2 linked regions of the Homo sapiens genome follow. The main gene of each other region encodes a partner of the protein of the gene in region 2 in a complex. Links are inferred from orthologs where the notes say so. Each region holds a gene or a part of one and is shown on either strand. Other genes may lie near its edges.

What was found. Proteins that work in one complex are often made in the same cells at the same time.
Region 1: the proteins of BBS4 (region 2) and BBIP1 are in contact, whole or in part, in a cryo-EM structure (PDB 6VBV), measured with the Bos taurus proteins. The link is inferred for Homo sapiens from one-to-one orthologs. Residues at the interface, in NP_001069424.1 of Bos taurus: Leu210, Leu213, Tyr236, Leu240, Ala241, Ser244, Gln247, Thr248, Ser269, Pro271, Asn274, Asn275, Met278, Phe281, Gly282, Lys284, Tyr298, Leu299, Pro301, Leu302, Asp303, Trp304, Lys305, Ile306, Tyr308, Asn309, Leu312, Leu315, Thr316, Gln318; in XP_003587939.1 of Bos taurus: Met7, Phe8, Arg9, Glu10, Val11, Leu12, Pro13, Lys14, Gln15, Gly16, Gln17, Leu18, Tyr19, Val20, Glu21, Asp22, Leu28, Lys30, Pro31.

What each region holds. Positions count from the first base shown.
Region 1 is NC_000010.11:110,916,175-110,923,926, forward strand, and holds the start of BBIP1 (BBSome-interacting protein 1), read right to left. Parts: upstream 3,007-7,752; 5' UTR 2,947-3,006; exon of another isoform or gene 2,362-2,946; intron 2,040-2,361; 5' UTR 1,984-2,039; coding exon 1,947-1,983; intron 1-1,946.
Region 2 is NC_000015.10:72,731,203-72,738,225, forward strand, and holds part of BBS4 (BBSome complex member BBS4), read left to right. Parts: intron 1-102; coding exon 103-255; intron 256-352; coding exon 353-524; intron 525-3,910; coding exon 3,911-3,980; intron 3,981-4,622; coding exon 4,623-4,764; intron 4,765-5,559; coding exon 5,560-5,761; intron 5,762-6,275; coding exon 6,276-6,385; 3' UTR 6,386-7,023.

The DNA.
Region 1 (7,752 bases), on a different chromosome or scaffold from region 2:
CACAAAGGAAGCAACTAACAGAATGCACTATGTAATTTTCAATATGATGGCTAAAAACATTCTATACCAATCTAAAAAATTCTGTCCTCCCAGAGCATTTTCTTCTGCTCCCTTATGTGCAGTTTTTTCCTTTCACTTATCTTTCATGATCAAATATAAGTCTAGGCTAGGAGGAGTATACGACGTTGGCAGTCTTGAGTTTTCCCTTTGTGATTAGGAAGTAAATTCCACAAACACTTCTCTATCCATTGGGCAGAGAACGTATCTAGTGTACTAAGTGTTAAGTATAATCTTGATTTTGCAATTTTTAATAGGCTCTGCTTAATGCTACCAAAAAGCTATCATAAAAACACCAGGACCAATTAAGACTTGCATGAGAATTTCAGTGAGAAAAATAACATTGCCTAAATTGGAATGTGACCAGATGGCCAACAGTTGCCTTGGTATTTGCTTTGATAACATCAAGATTCATCTGTATTTGAATTGCAGGGCCCACACATCTTTCAACAATGTCTGCAGGGTGCCAGGAGTTGACACTCATAAACTATGCTGACATCAGTACACTTTACTGCAGAAAGTCATTGCATCAGCTCCAAGAATAGGCAAAGTAGCAGCAACACTTTATTAAAGGTAGTCAATGTTGCCAACCCAAGGCACTAACACATACTCTATACACACAGGATTAAATGCTACCCTCTTCTTTGTAGGACACTGGAGAGGGGTAAGCATGCTAAGAAGTGAGATGGATTTAACCAGCAACTCACGGCAAAGTGCGTATAGCTGCGTTTGAGAAGGCTTAGTCATGACTAGAAAAGTGTGAATACTGTGACATATCCTTGCAAAAAAAATGTTCAGCTTAAGCCTCTAGACTAACTTCTGGTTTACAAGAAGAAAAAAGAGGGGCCCATTTCCAAAAAGACTCCTGCCTTGAACTCTTCAAAATGCCAATGTCACAGGGGGAAAAAAGATGGGGGAACTCTACTACATTAAAGCTAAAGAAAAATTTTGACTGGATCCTGATTTTTTTTTTTTTTTTTTTTTTTTGCAGGATTGGGAAGGAGAAGGTATAAAAGATATTCCTGGGTAAATTAGGAAAATTAGCACTTGGCCTAGATTTTAAAAGTTACAAAACAGCTGAAATAATGATATTGTGTTTTGCTGGAGAACTTCAAAATTCTTAGGAAATTCATGCTGGAAATCTTAAGGGTGTCTTGCCTAACAATAAGTGTCTGCAACTTTTTATGACAATGAAAAAGTGGGGAGGAATGAAAAAAAATGGCAAAATGTTAACTGCTGCATATAGATGATGGGTACATGAATATTCATTAAATTATTTCTTTCAGCTTTTAAATATATGAACACTTTCATAATAAAACACTGGGGAAAAAAATCATGTCAGAAAGACTTCACAGGGGAAACGTAAAACAAAGATTGAGTAGCAGGCGCTCAGCTGAATTTCTGATAAATTGAAGGTCTCTAAAACTTGGCTGGAAGTGTCTTGGGCATCCAAGAGACACCCGATATATTCAAACTTTCAGTAAGTATTTACCAAAATAATATCATGTGCATGGTGAAAATGACGGGAAGACGAATCTGATACAAACCATTCTATTTAGGTGCAGACATGGTAGTGAAGCTAAAAACATAAGCGCTATTATATATATATAACATACTGATTGTCATAAAAGATGTACAAAAAATGCTAAACTCAGAGGAAATTACTTCCTGCTGGGAAGAATCTGGAAACACATCTCCACGGGTAACAGAATCAGATACAGAATCACAAAAGGTGACTGCTACAACAGATTTCAGTAATTAACAGCAAAGAAACAAGAGTAGTTCATTTTGGCTGGCGTGTAAGTACTAAGGAAGCAGAAATTAAGTCGAGAAGGTAGGTTTGCATCTGTATTGTTGACTGGCTGGATATTAACCATTTTCAATTTTACCTGAAAGTTCTGGTCTTTTTGCTGCAGCTTTAAGCATCCAACCCGGTATTACCAAGATGACTTAGAGTTCTTGACTCAAGCATACAGAAGAAACTACAAGATAATGTATGATAACTTTGTAAAGGGCCATATAAAAGCAATACAGTATTTTCAAAAATCTTCAACACGTTGTTTAAGAAACTGTAGACCTGCAGGAATCCCACCACCAGAACCGCAGTCAAAGCTTACAAAGACTCAAAGGAGAGACGCGGAAAGGGGGGAAAAATCAGAATGGGAAGGCAGGTGGCAGGGGAAAAAGATTGAGGTCCTGCCCTGGTGGTAGGGGCTCATCTTTTCCTTTTATAGGTGAAGGTGGAAAATGATTTTCTGAAGTTCCCGAATTCTCCTCCCTCCAAAGGCCAAGGAGTGAAAGTACTTAATAGGAACTTGCGGAGGCGTGGTCAAGAGCTCCGTTTTGCCGGAGTTAGGAGCTCCGCCCCGAGGTCCCCGCCCATTCCCCGCTGGGGTCCTCCCGGCCGGGCTGCCTCTGGCTGGGTTAGGGCGGCCTGTAGAGCGGCCTCACCCCACAGGGAGCCTCACGGGGGCGGGCCGCCGCCAGGCCAGCCCGGAAAAAAACCGCCTTCCAACGGAAGCGGCCCTGAGCCCCGCTCGCCATTTCAGCGCTCTGTCCCACAGGGACCGTCCGGCCCGGGTCCGGCCCACTGGTTGGGGTCCACGGACTCACCTCACTTTGCAACTAAGGTCAAAAATAAGCATTCCCTGGGGCACGGGCGGCCAGGCTATTAACACCCTTCCGCCATGACCCAATTCGGAAGTGCCAAATGCAACTTCCGGGCAGGAGAGGGAATTTCGGAGCCCTAAACTGTTGTCCATCTCCGTAAGTGACCAGACGTCTCAGTAAAATAAGGGCCAGGAAACTGGACGTGTAATCCGGAGTATGAATTAACTTGTCTAACATGGGATGTGTGGTCACCCACGGTACCTCTTTGGGCTTACTTACAGATGCATCCCTTCCCAGACGGCTCAGCTGTTGCCCCGGGTAACGGTGAGACTGGCGAAGGAAAAAAATCTACGTCACCCTGGAAACAGGAAGCCAGGAATCTCCTTTTGCCATTATCAGTTATGGCCGCCTTAGCTTCAACAGTAACTTCCGATCGGGGAGTTGTCACTCTACCCTGCTGGAGGCTTACTCTGTAGCCCGGCTAGCCAGAGGCGCCCAGTGGGCGGGAGACGGCGTAGAGGAACTGAGGAAAGGACAAGGGCGGAGAGAGAGAAGCTGGCGGCACTGCCCGTCTCTGATTGGGCAGCTTCTCTTGCCCCGGTTCCGCCCATTTTTCTTGCCTAGCGAGTGACGGGCCCACGGCAGAGGGGTGGGGCGGGGAGGCTGGAGCGAGAGTAGTGGCGGGGCGGGCGGGGCGGGGCGAGTGGGGGAGGGGCGGGCGGGGGGCGGCGGTTGGGCAGCGTCGCTTCTTAGGAGGAGGAGGAAGAGGAGGAAGGAGGGCGAGCGAGGAGGATGGCGGAGTCGGGGCTCCTGACGGTAACTCGGGGCCGATGAGGCGGAGGGTGTCTGTTGGTCGGTTCTTCCTGCCTGCCTTCCTGTCCGTCGGGCAGTCGGGCTGGCTGTCGGTAGGGGGAGGCCCCGTGCGCCCTGACAGGCGCGAGCCGGCAGCGCCGGGGCGAGGCCCGAGGGGCCGGGGCCCTGGGAGGCGCCGCCGCCGCCGCTTTCCTGGTTGCTGTCTCCGGGAGTGCGGGGCCCTTGGAGCCGGCTCGCGTGGGAGCCTGCAGCCCGGCGCGGAGAGGAAGGCGGTCGGGTGTGACAGCGGCCGGGGCCGGGCCTGCGGCGGCGGCGGCGGGCGGCCCGGACAGCGCCTGGGCGACGGCGAGCCGGCGCGAGGGCGCGGGCCGGGGGCCCCCGGCGGACAGTCTCTCTCCTCTCGGCTCCCTGGGCCCCCGGGCCCAGTCCGCAGGGCGCCCCGAGTCGTGTAAATCGTTGGCGAGGGCCCGGGCGCAGCGGCGGTCATACAGGGTGGGGTCTCTTCTCGCCCCCTCCCTGGAGTCCACCTTGCTCTCCCGTTCTCCTCTCCCTAAAAACCCTTGAGTGAAGAGTGCTGGATCGGCTCTGGGTGTGTTGCCTAGCGAAGCGAGTTGTAGCCCTTCGAGACCGCCTCGTAGAACATGCCCGATGGCAACCTCTCCCCGTGATAGCACAGCTTTTAGGGAGAGAGGAAAAGTAGTCTCACTCTTCCCCGACTTCCCCAGGCTCATAACACAAGAGGCTTTGGGGCAAGACGATTTTTCCCCCAGCACCTCAATATCCATTGTTTTTGTACCATCCCCCTCCCCCCATGCCTAGGTGGAAGAGTAATGACTCCAAAGCATTAACTTGCCTTTCTCTTTATTTCTTTTCTTTCTTTTTCTTTTCTTCCTTCCTTTCTTTAAGCAGGCAGTTTGTGTTATTGTGGAATTATGGATTTACAAACAGGTGGAATAAATACCGATTCGGGAGCTAGAAAGAAGATGCTTTGTGTGTGTGTTTAAGCCCTTACAGTTGGCAGTTTGATTTTTCTTGTCTGTTGCTTTGTATCGTAATGGGGGTGATGAGAATAAAAGAGGAAGCACTGTTTTGCAACCTACCCAAAGAAATATTTTCGAAGTCTCTGGGGATGCTGAAGCAAAATTAGGTTGCAGATGTGGACTGTATAGTATTTGCCTCCAGCGTGATAACTACCAGCAGTGTCTAGGCTTACACCTGTGCCATTTCGTATACTTTTCTTAGATACCGAGTGCGTCTAGTTTCTACTCAAGAGGGACTACTATATCAAAAGCTTTTTGTTACGGTTTTCAGAATCCTAAGGTACATTTGTGTAACCAAGTGTTTTTGTAACTAAATGCAGCAACACCACTGAAAAATAGTTTTAATTTTAAAGACCTCAATTTATTAGTGTACTTACTAATCTTTACCCTCATCCTCCATGCTGTGGACTGTAGAACTGTTACTGTGTACTTGAAGAGACTTAGCTATTGCATCCAATTTGTAACATTCAGTAAGGTTATATTTATAATTTGAATTTATCAAGTGTTGATGTTTTGCTGTGTGACAGTGAAAAGAATTTTAGGAATAAAGTATGCAAATGACCATTCGCCACATATGGAACTTAGACTGAGTATGATAAGCCTTTTGTCTTTATTTGGACATAAAGTATATTGTAAACTTTTTATGTAATTATAAATACACATTTGAAAAATAGACAAAAATAAACACAAAACTGAATAAAAGTTTTGTCTAAGGTTTGTAACTTTCAAATGTCTGAAATTTAATATAAAGCCAACATATAAAACAATATTGAAATCCCAGTTTCAAATTATGGACATGTCTTTAAGGGTACTGCATTTTCCCAAGGTGCTTGTTCAGTTTTATTTTTAGTTTTTAATTGTTATGGGTACATAGTAGGTTTTTATGGGTTATATGAGATATTGATACAGGCATACAATGCATAATAGTCACATTAGAGTAAATGAGGTATCCCATCATCTCAAGCATCTACCCTTTGTGATACAAATATCCAATTATACTCTTAGTTATTTTAAAATGTGCAATTAAATTTATTGAGTATGGTCACCCTGTTGTGCTATGAAATACTGGATCGTATTCATTCTGTTTTTTTATATCCATTAACCATCCCCACATTCCCCCTTCAGTTTTTGAGGAAACAGCTACATTAAAAGTTGACATTTGTTTTCTGATCGCTCATTATTAATATAATTTTTAAGTTCAAAAAATTTTCTCATAAATTATTATGGATTAAAGAGTGATATTAAAATATACATTAATAGTTTGCAGCTAGATCTTTTTTTTTTAGTTTTTAAACTACCGTATTCAGAAAGTTCATCAGAGCTGTTTTTCTGGTAGTTGTAGCAAGTAAAAGGTCATGCATCAACTTCTGAACTACAAGCCAGTTGGAAATTTGAAACATTTCATGTTTAAATAGAAACATGAAAATTACAAATTCCTTTGTCACACTTGCTGGAATTACGCCTTTAAAATGTTACTCTTTTTTCTGTGACTTGGGTCAGGGAAGAATGACTTTTCTCTTTCCACATCAGAGAGACATAAACTGGAATTCTATGTGGAATGTTTCCAAAGATGGCTTCCGAGTAGTGATTGGTATAGTTATTGCTTTGGCTTACCTGTATGAATTATGGAGGATGGGTGAATAAACTTGAAATTCTTTATTATACAGGTGGATAAATTATAGTTATATTTGCCTTAAAAATATGCTCATTTTCAATATTTGTTGTATCATTTAATATTTCTGGAAGACTTCTTTAAACTTCAGATATTTTGATTTTTTTGTAAAAATATTTAAATACAGAAATCTGTGTTTTAACTAAAAGATACAAACTCTATATGTAGATATAAGGATGCATATTTTTGGAGGCTGAAGATTAAGTGAAATGTATCTTTAGAATTTGGTTTACTATATGATTCATGTATCTTTCATGTATGAAAAAGCCTTAAGATTAATGCTTATAACAAAATAAGATTTTAAAAAACCCCAAACAATAAAAAACAACAAAACAAGTTAACTCACAAATCCTTCAGTGAGTTCTGAGATTTATAACTTAGACTTGGAAGAATTTTGCTACTCGTTTATAAAATATCAATTAACAGAGGAAATTTAAATATAAATTGGATATTTTGACATTTCTTAATGAGACTAGTAGGGATTGGTATTTTGCTATAGATGAATAAATGGAAACTGTAATTTATCAGTAGAATTATACATTAAGTACTTTTATGTGATACTTAAATGAGTACTTCAAATATTAAGTGAGTTGGTATTTTTGCTTGTTGGTAGACCTGTATTTCATGCATTATGTGTTGTGCATTAGACATATAAGTTGGCTGAATCTTAGACTAATTAATGGACATATATCATCTGCTATCCTTGTAATCCCCTATTTTAACTGCTTGGCCTTCTGAATTTTGTTTCATTTACTTGTTACACTGCATCAAAGTTGTGCCCTGTAGATCTTTTTTGAAATATTTTCTCTTAATATATTAAATTTTTATATTTTCCGACTGTGTAAACTGACTTTTAAAATCTGAATAATTTCTGAATTACAGATGACCTATGGTATGCTTGAACTTCATATATTATAGAGTGTTCTTAAAAGTGTTTGTTAATCATTACAGATTGAAACATAAGTCTGAGAAACTTTTATGTTCTAAAATATATAATTGAATTATTTTAATATAAATTAATGTTCATTCTGGTTTTGTTTGGTATTTTCCCCCGGGTCTCAACTTTTTAACACAGCATCTTTAATTCAGCAAAGCAGAGTTTATACACGCAAAAGGATATTTTAATTACCAATGATCCTTAAGCTTTTGAGATAATGGTAGTGTATGTGCTTCTTGAGAAAGCATGCAGTTCCCATTATCAAGATTTAAAAGAACACTAATTCATTTTCACACTGTATATCTCATTCCAACTTCTCTAAAGGTCAGAACTGATTGCAAAAAGTAGTACATGCTCTAAAATGTAAGGATTCATTTATGAGAAAGAGTGAACATACTGCTTGTAGCTAAAACATTACAGGAGACCTTAAAAAGGGGTATAATTGGTCCCTATGTGAAATGAACCTGACATATTTTTATAAATTATTTGTGCATGACTATCTTTTGTTGATAGCACTAGGAAGACTTCTAACGTTTAAATACTTTATTTGCCCTCAATTACTATTTAAAAGTCCTATAATTTTAAGTAATTTTACAGCTGACAAAGATAAATATTTTTTTCTT
Region 2 (7,023 bases):
ATCTATGCTGATGGGCCTGCTGAGTATAGACTCAGGAAAGCTGCCCCACTGCTACAGCCTTTTGGGAATGACTGAATGACTTTCTCTGTGCCATGTTTTCAGGCCATCTTGGCAGCAGGCAGCATGATGCAGACCCACGGGGACTTTGATGTTGCCCTCACCAAATACAGAGTTGTGGCTTGTGCTGTTCCAGAAAGTCCTCCACTCTGGAATAACATTGGAATGTGTTTCTTTGGCAAGAAGAAATATGTGGCGGTGAGTGTCCCCTCATGTTCTTTGTTTGTATTTCTACATGTGGTTATTGGGTCTGTTTAGCTTGCCCTTCTCATTGAGTGCCCCTTCTCTCTCATAGGCCATCAGCTGCCTGAAACGAGCCAACTACTTGGCACCCTTTGATTGGAAGATTCTGTATAATTTGGGCCTTGTCCATTTGACCATGCAGCAGTATGCATCAGCTTTTCATTTTCTCAGTGCGGCCATCAACTTCCAGCCAAAGATGGGGGAGCTCTACATGCTCTTGGCAGGTAAGAAACATTTATGTGGAAAACTCTCTCTGCCATCTGTAATGAGGGAAAAATGGATTAGAATCATAGAAGATCAGTGGCTGTCTCATAGGAGCCATTCCCTTAGAGATCCTGTAGGAATCTGGATTACTGTCCTGGAGCTTGAAGAAATAGAAAAAGATGACAAAGGAACTTGGTTGTTTCTAACTTGGGGGAGTTTGACTCAGAGACCAACAGGTTAAATAAAGATCATCCCTAGTTCACCTTTTACCAGTTTTTTCCTCTTGCCTTGACAATTCATTTATGTATATATTGAGTCCAACTAAGTTCCAGACAGCAAGTGTTAAGAGCTTGGGTTTTAGGTAGGGTCCTGCCTCTACTACTTATTATATGTACCTAGGGCTGATGTGAGGATTGCATGATTAAGCTCTCAATTAATAATACTGGTTTTGTTGAAATACTGATTTTTGAAAACTGTTGGTTTTACTGTGGTTATATAATTGGTCTATTATTATCAATATTGTTGTTACTATAATTGGCCCCTAGGTGATACTTCCAAGTCAAGCTACCTTATGTTGAAACCCTTATCTCTTCTGAGCATGTTATATAGAATGCCATTCTCTTCCTGAAACTCCATTTTATGCCATGCAAATACTAAAATTGATCATAAAAATAAGTTAAAATTAATCAAACACTTTAACAATTATGCACAACCATTTTAAAGTACTGACTAGTCTTTCTAGGAATTTTTTTCTCCATATACATTTACTTACTAAATGTAAGACCCAAAGCAGATTTCCATGTCCTCATTTGGCAGTCGTCTTCCAGTGGCTTTTTGTTCATTACTGTGGGTTCTTATTTAAAAGAGAAAGCTTGCAAAAGCAATTGTGGTTATTTGAGGGTTGCCTGAATACAAAGATAACTTTAAAAAAAAAACATAGGTTTTATTATTATTCAGATATGGTATGGGCAACAGATCAGAAGACATCTGCCACTGGAAAGATAGTCTGTTACAATTCCTGAGAAGGAGGGCATGCTACACCGTGCAGGGCCACATGGGGAAGCACCAGGTCAATCAGGAGGTAGAGGGAGCAAGGGGTAAATGTGGGCACAATTCTTTATTGTAGTTTTCATGGGTAGAAATGCCCTCCCCGGGGCAAGACCGGGAAAGCAGGTTAACCAGGTTGGGGATTGGCCAGTTTGAATAATTTCAGTGGGCTCTGGGCTATAGGGCTGTCTCTAGGTGTCTGGTACCTGACCCTCGGGTGACTAGGACTAGGGAATATTGGCCCAGTGTCAGGGCCCAGTAAAGGAGGCAGTTAAGAATATGAACACTGGGTTGGTCGGTCTGCATACAGAAGGTACTCTTGTAGGGGTTATATCTAGGAATTAGCTGACTGTGGGAGGGACAGTCTCCCCAGGGTCAGTAAGGCCCCAGATGTCAAAACATCAGAATAAAAAGGCTAAAGTGGGGTGTGATGGTACATACCTGTAGTGCTGGCTACTTGGGAGGCTAAGGCAGGAAGTTTGCTTAAGCCCAGGAGTTGGGAGTACAGCCTGGGCAACACAGTGAGACTCCATTCCTCTCTCTTTTTTTAAAAATTTTATTTTAGGTTCAGGGGTACATGTGCATCCTGTTACACAGGCACGTGTGTCATGGGGATTAGTTGTACAGATTATTTCATCACCCAGGTACTAAGCCTAGTACCCAATAGTTATTTTTTTCTGGCCCTCCCCCTCCTCCAGTAAGCTCCAGTGTCTGTTTCCCTCTGTGTCTCCATGTGTTCTCATCATTTAGCTCTTATAGTGAGAACATGCAGGATTTGGTTTTCTATCCTTTATTAATTTGCTAAGGATGGTGGCCTCCAGCTCCATCTATGTTGCTGCAAAGGACACGATCTTGTTCTTTTGTATGGCTGTGTCGTATTCCATGGTGTACATTTACATTTTGTTTATCCAGTCTACCATTGATGGGCATTTAGGTTGATTTCACATCTTTGCTATTGTGAATAGTGCTGCATTGAACACACACATGCATGTGTCTTTATGGCAGAACGATTTACATTCCTTTGGGCATATACCCAGTAATGGGATTGCTGGGTCGAAGGGTAGTTGTATTTTTAGCTCTTTGGGGAATTGCCAGATTGCTTTCCACAATGGTTGAACTAATTTACACTCCCATCAACAGTGTATAAGCATTCCCTTTTCTCTGCAGCCTCACCAGGATGTTATATTTTGAGTTTTTAATAATAGCCATTTTGACTGGTGTGAGATGGTTATCTCACTGTGGTTTCAATTTGCATTTCTCTAATCAGTGATAGAGTTTTTCATATGCTTGTTGGCTGCATACATGACTTCTTTTGAAGTGTCTGTTTATGTCCTTTGCCCATTTTAATGGGATTGTATTCTTCTTGTAAATTTGCTTAAGTTCCTTATAGATCCTGGATATTAGACCTGCATGGTTTGCAAATATTTTCTCCCATTTTGTACATTGTCTGTTTACTGTGTTGATAGTTTCTTTAGATAGCTGGGTTCTAATGGAACACAGAAATGTAAACAGCCATAATGTAAGAGATAACAGCGATGCTAACTTTACAAAGTAGAGATGGCATTCAAACTGGATCCTGAACAACAAGCTAAAATGGAATAGCACAGAATGGCTGAGGAGCCACTGTGAAGAAAGGCATGCAGCCATGAAACTGCAGTGTCCCTTGCTGTTAGTGGGGGTTAGTGTTAGAGAATATGATGGGAGATGAATCAGGAAAGATATTCTGGGGTCAGATTATGGAGGTCATGCGTACAGTGCAAGGACTTTATCTTAGAGGCCATGTTTGTCCAGCTGTCTTCCTAGATCTCCTCTTAGGTGCCTGGTAGGAGTGAGTGCATAGCTGGTGGGGAGGTGGAATGGGCAGGGCTTCCAGAGCAGCTGTTTTTGTTTTATATATTAGGTGTCAAGGAAATACTGATTTTAAAAAGTGGGGGGAGTGTTTTACTGCTAAATGAAAGTGTAAAGATCATGGTTATAGATGTGGGGGGCCAGTGAGGATTCCTAAGTAGGATGGTAATGTGGTCAGATTTGTAAGGCAGTGAGATACCTGGCAGCGCTGTGGAAGGTGGAATGGAGGCAGGTGGGGACTTTGACACTGGGGAATAAATGGAAAGCCTAAAACTACTTGGGCCTGAACAAGGGCAGTGTCAGAAAAGAAACTGCAAAAAAAGGATGCATAGAACCTGGCAACTGATTGACTGTAGAAGAGATGGTTGAAGATAGCACCAGGTATCTAAGCTGACTTAGTAAACTCTGGTGCCATGAGCTGACAGGGTGAAGTTTACTTTGGGGGTAGTCTTTAATACTCCTTTTGTCTTCTAAGCTGAGCTCTCCAGCTGCAGTGCTTTCTTTGTTGCAGTGGCTCTGACCAATCTGGAAGATATAGAAAATGCCAAGAGAGCCTACGCAGAAGCAGTCCACCTGGATAAGTATGCACTTTGTTGAGAATGGTACTGGCGGGGGTTGGACTCTCCAAAGCCATGAGGTGGTGCCATACATAGCATTGGTGCTGCCTGTGTCAGCCCAGCTGTTCCTCTATGGCATTAGTACATAGCAGACCTCAGTGTGGAGGGATGTGTCTCCTAAGTATGTGGTGGCTCAGCAGGAATTGACACTCTGAGAAAATGTTTCCAGTCCTAAACTGAGTAATCAGGAGGCTAGAGAATGTCAGAACTGGCAGTGGGCTTGGGTTGCTGATAGCTATGGGCTAGCTGGAATATCAGATGGGACTCTGGGCTGTTTAATTCAAGATAAAACTTGACTCTTCCAGGATTTACTCCGCTGGCATCTTCTAGACAGCAGGGTAGAGATCCCTTTTTCAACCCTGGCCTAGGTAGTCTCTGTTGAGGGCTGAGATGCCAGATTTGGTCCCAATACCAGCTTTGCTTGTTAGGCCATTAACTCCTTGATTCTTCTCCACAGGTCTGCTTAGCACGTATGTACCTACCTTGCTGCATAATGGAGAAATCTCTACTTAACCAGTTTTGTTTTGTTTTTGTGTAATGAGAAGGATCTCTAAATGACCATTTGTTGCAGAGCCCCCAGCTCCATAGAATCTCTGTCTGCCACAGGTGTAACCCTTTAGTAAACCTGAACTATGCTGTGCTGCTGTACAACCAGGGCGAGAAGAAGAACGCCCTGGCCCAATATCAGGAGATGGAGAAGAAAGTCAGCCTACTCAAGGACAATAGCTCTCTGGAATTTGACTCTGAGGTATGTCTTTTATTAGCTCCCAAGAGTCATAAGTAAGCTCTCAGGAGACTTTTAAAAATCAAGCCCAGATCATCCAAATCCAAGGTATTACACGTTCATGGCTGTTCTGGCTTTGATGTTCCTAGCAGCATGAGTTCATCAATTAATAACAGCCTGAGAAAAACTTTCCTAGAATAATAATAAAAGGAAATTCAGGCTTACTGAGTTGTTATTGCTAATTCAACTCATCAAAGTTGAGGTCTGTGTCTGTCTGTAGCTTCCTTCTATTTCACTTTTTTTTTTTTTTTTTTTTTGAGACGGAATCTCGCTCTGTTGCCCAGGCTGGAGTGCAATGGCGCAATCTCAGTTCACTGCAACCTCCGCCTCCTGGGTTCAAGCAATTCTCCTGCCTCAGCCTTCCAAGTAGCTGGGACTACAGGCGCGTGCCACCACGCCCAGCTAATTTTTGTATTTTTAGTAGAGACGGGGTTTCACCATGTTGGCCAGGATGGTCTTGATCTCTTGACCTCGTGATCCACGTGCCCAGCCCTATTTCACTTGTTGTAGGAAATGCACTGTTTGGCCCGGTAATGCACCAGGCTTGAATTGTTGGGTTTTGAGATCCTATGTGAACCACCATGCCATCCAGTAAAGGCAATCTGTAATCTCTACTGTTTGATAAGTACTTCCTGCCTCAACTGCTAGTACGACCAGACACTATTTCAGCTAAAACCCCAGCTCGAAGACCAAAGAAGTGGGTTGGCTTGTCTCTGACAGTCACGCTTTTGATTCTTTTACTTCCTTTGTGGACACAAGATGGTGGAGATGGCTCAGAAGTTGGGAGCTGCTCTCCAGGTTGGGGAGGCACTGGTCTGGACCAAACCAGTTAAAGATCCCAAATCAAAGCACCAGACCACTTCAACCAGCAAACCTGCCAGTTTCCAGCAGCCTCTGGGCTCTAATCAAGCTCTAGGACAGGCAATGTCTTCAGCAGCTGCATACAGGACGCTCCCCTCAGGTAGGACCATACAGAGCTCCATGAAGACCTGGCAGGTACAAGCCACATGTGTCTGTCAGCAGAGATTATAGCTTTCAGTGAGGTTCTCTTCAGACTCATATGTCCAACGTAGTATTGGCCACAAGGGGAGAAAAAAAACACAGGGTGGCTAAATTGGCACTTGTTTCCTTAAGGCGAGCTATGTAGTAGGTAACAGCTACTCACAGACTTAGTTGGATGGTCTATACACTGGTCTTTCCAATTTTAGCAATATGTTATTAAGTATATCCTGTTATGCAATGTTTAATTTTTACTGCTTTATCAGAAGTTGACACGTAAATATTTTTCAGTGACTCATTGAAGGCAAACTTGACTGTTGCTTTATTTCTCAGTTATAGTCTTCCCTTATAGTTAATGGGTCAGTCCCACTGGTTCCAGAAAATATGGGGTTTCCTCTTGAACTCTAACAGCAAAAAAGAATGATTTCTTCTGAAATTGTGGAACATGAGGATTCAAGTTTTTATTTTGTTACTAGGTGCTGGAGGAACATCCCAGTTCACAAAGCCCCCATCTCTTCCTCTGGAGCCAGAGCCTGCGGTGGAATCAAGTCCAACTGAAACATCAGAACAAATAAGAGAGAAATAAGAATAGAATGAATGACCCCAAAATAGGGTTTTCTTGGGCGAGGATGTGCTGGATTAGGAAAGGTGACATGACACAGGCAGAGCAGAGTGGCACCCACCACAGAATACAGTGTGTGTTATTACGAGGAGCCAGCAGTTGAGCCTAAGGTCCTTCTACCTACCTGGTATTGGCATTTGAGGTCGGAAACCCTCTACTGCCCCATAAGCCAGGAAAAGTGAAAAGAGAACACAGTTCCTTTAAGAACTGGCAGCAAGGCTTGAGGCCTTATGTATGTAGCTGAGTCAGCAAGGTACATGATGCTGTCTGCTTTCAAAAGGACTTTTCTCTCCTAGCTGACTGACTCCTTCCTTAGTTCAAGGAACAGCTGAGACAGACCTCTGCTGAGTAGCTCTGTGATGACAAAGCCTTGGTTTAACTGAGGTGATCCTCAGGTTGTGAGGTTTATTAGTCCCCAAGGCAAACACAAATATTAGATTAATAATCCAACTTTAATAGTATACATTTAAAAGAAAAAAAACAAAAGCCCTGGAAGTTGAGGCCAAGCCTGCTGAGTATTGCAGCTGCATTTGCCCAAAGGGAATCCAGAACAAGTCCCTCCCTGTATTTTGTTCTTGAGAGGGGTCAGTCTAGAAGCTAGA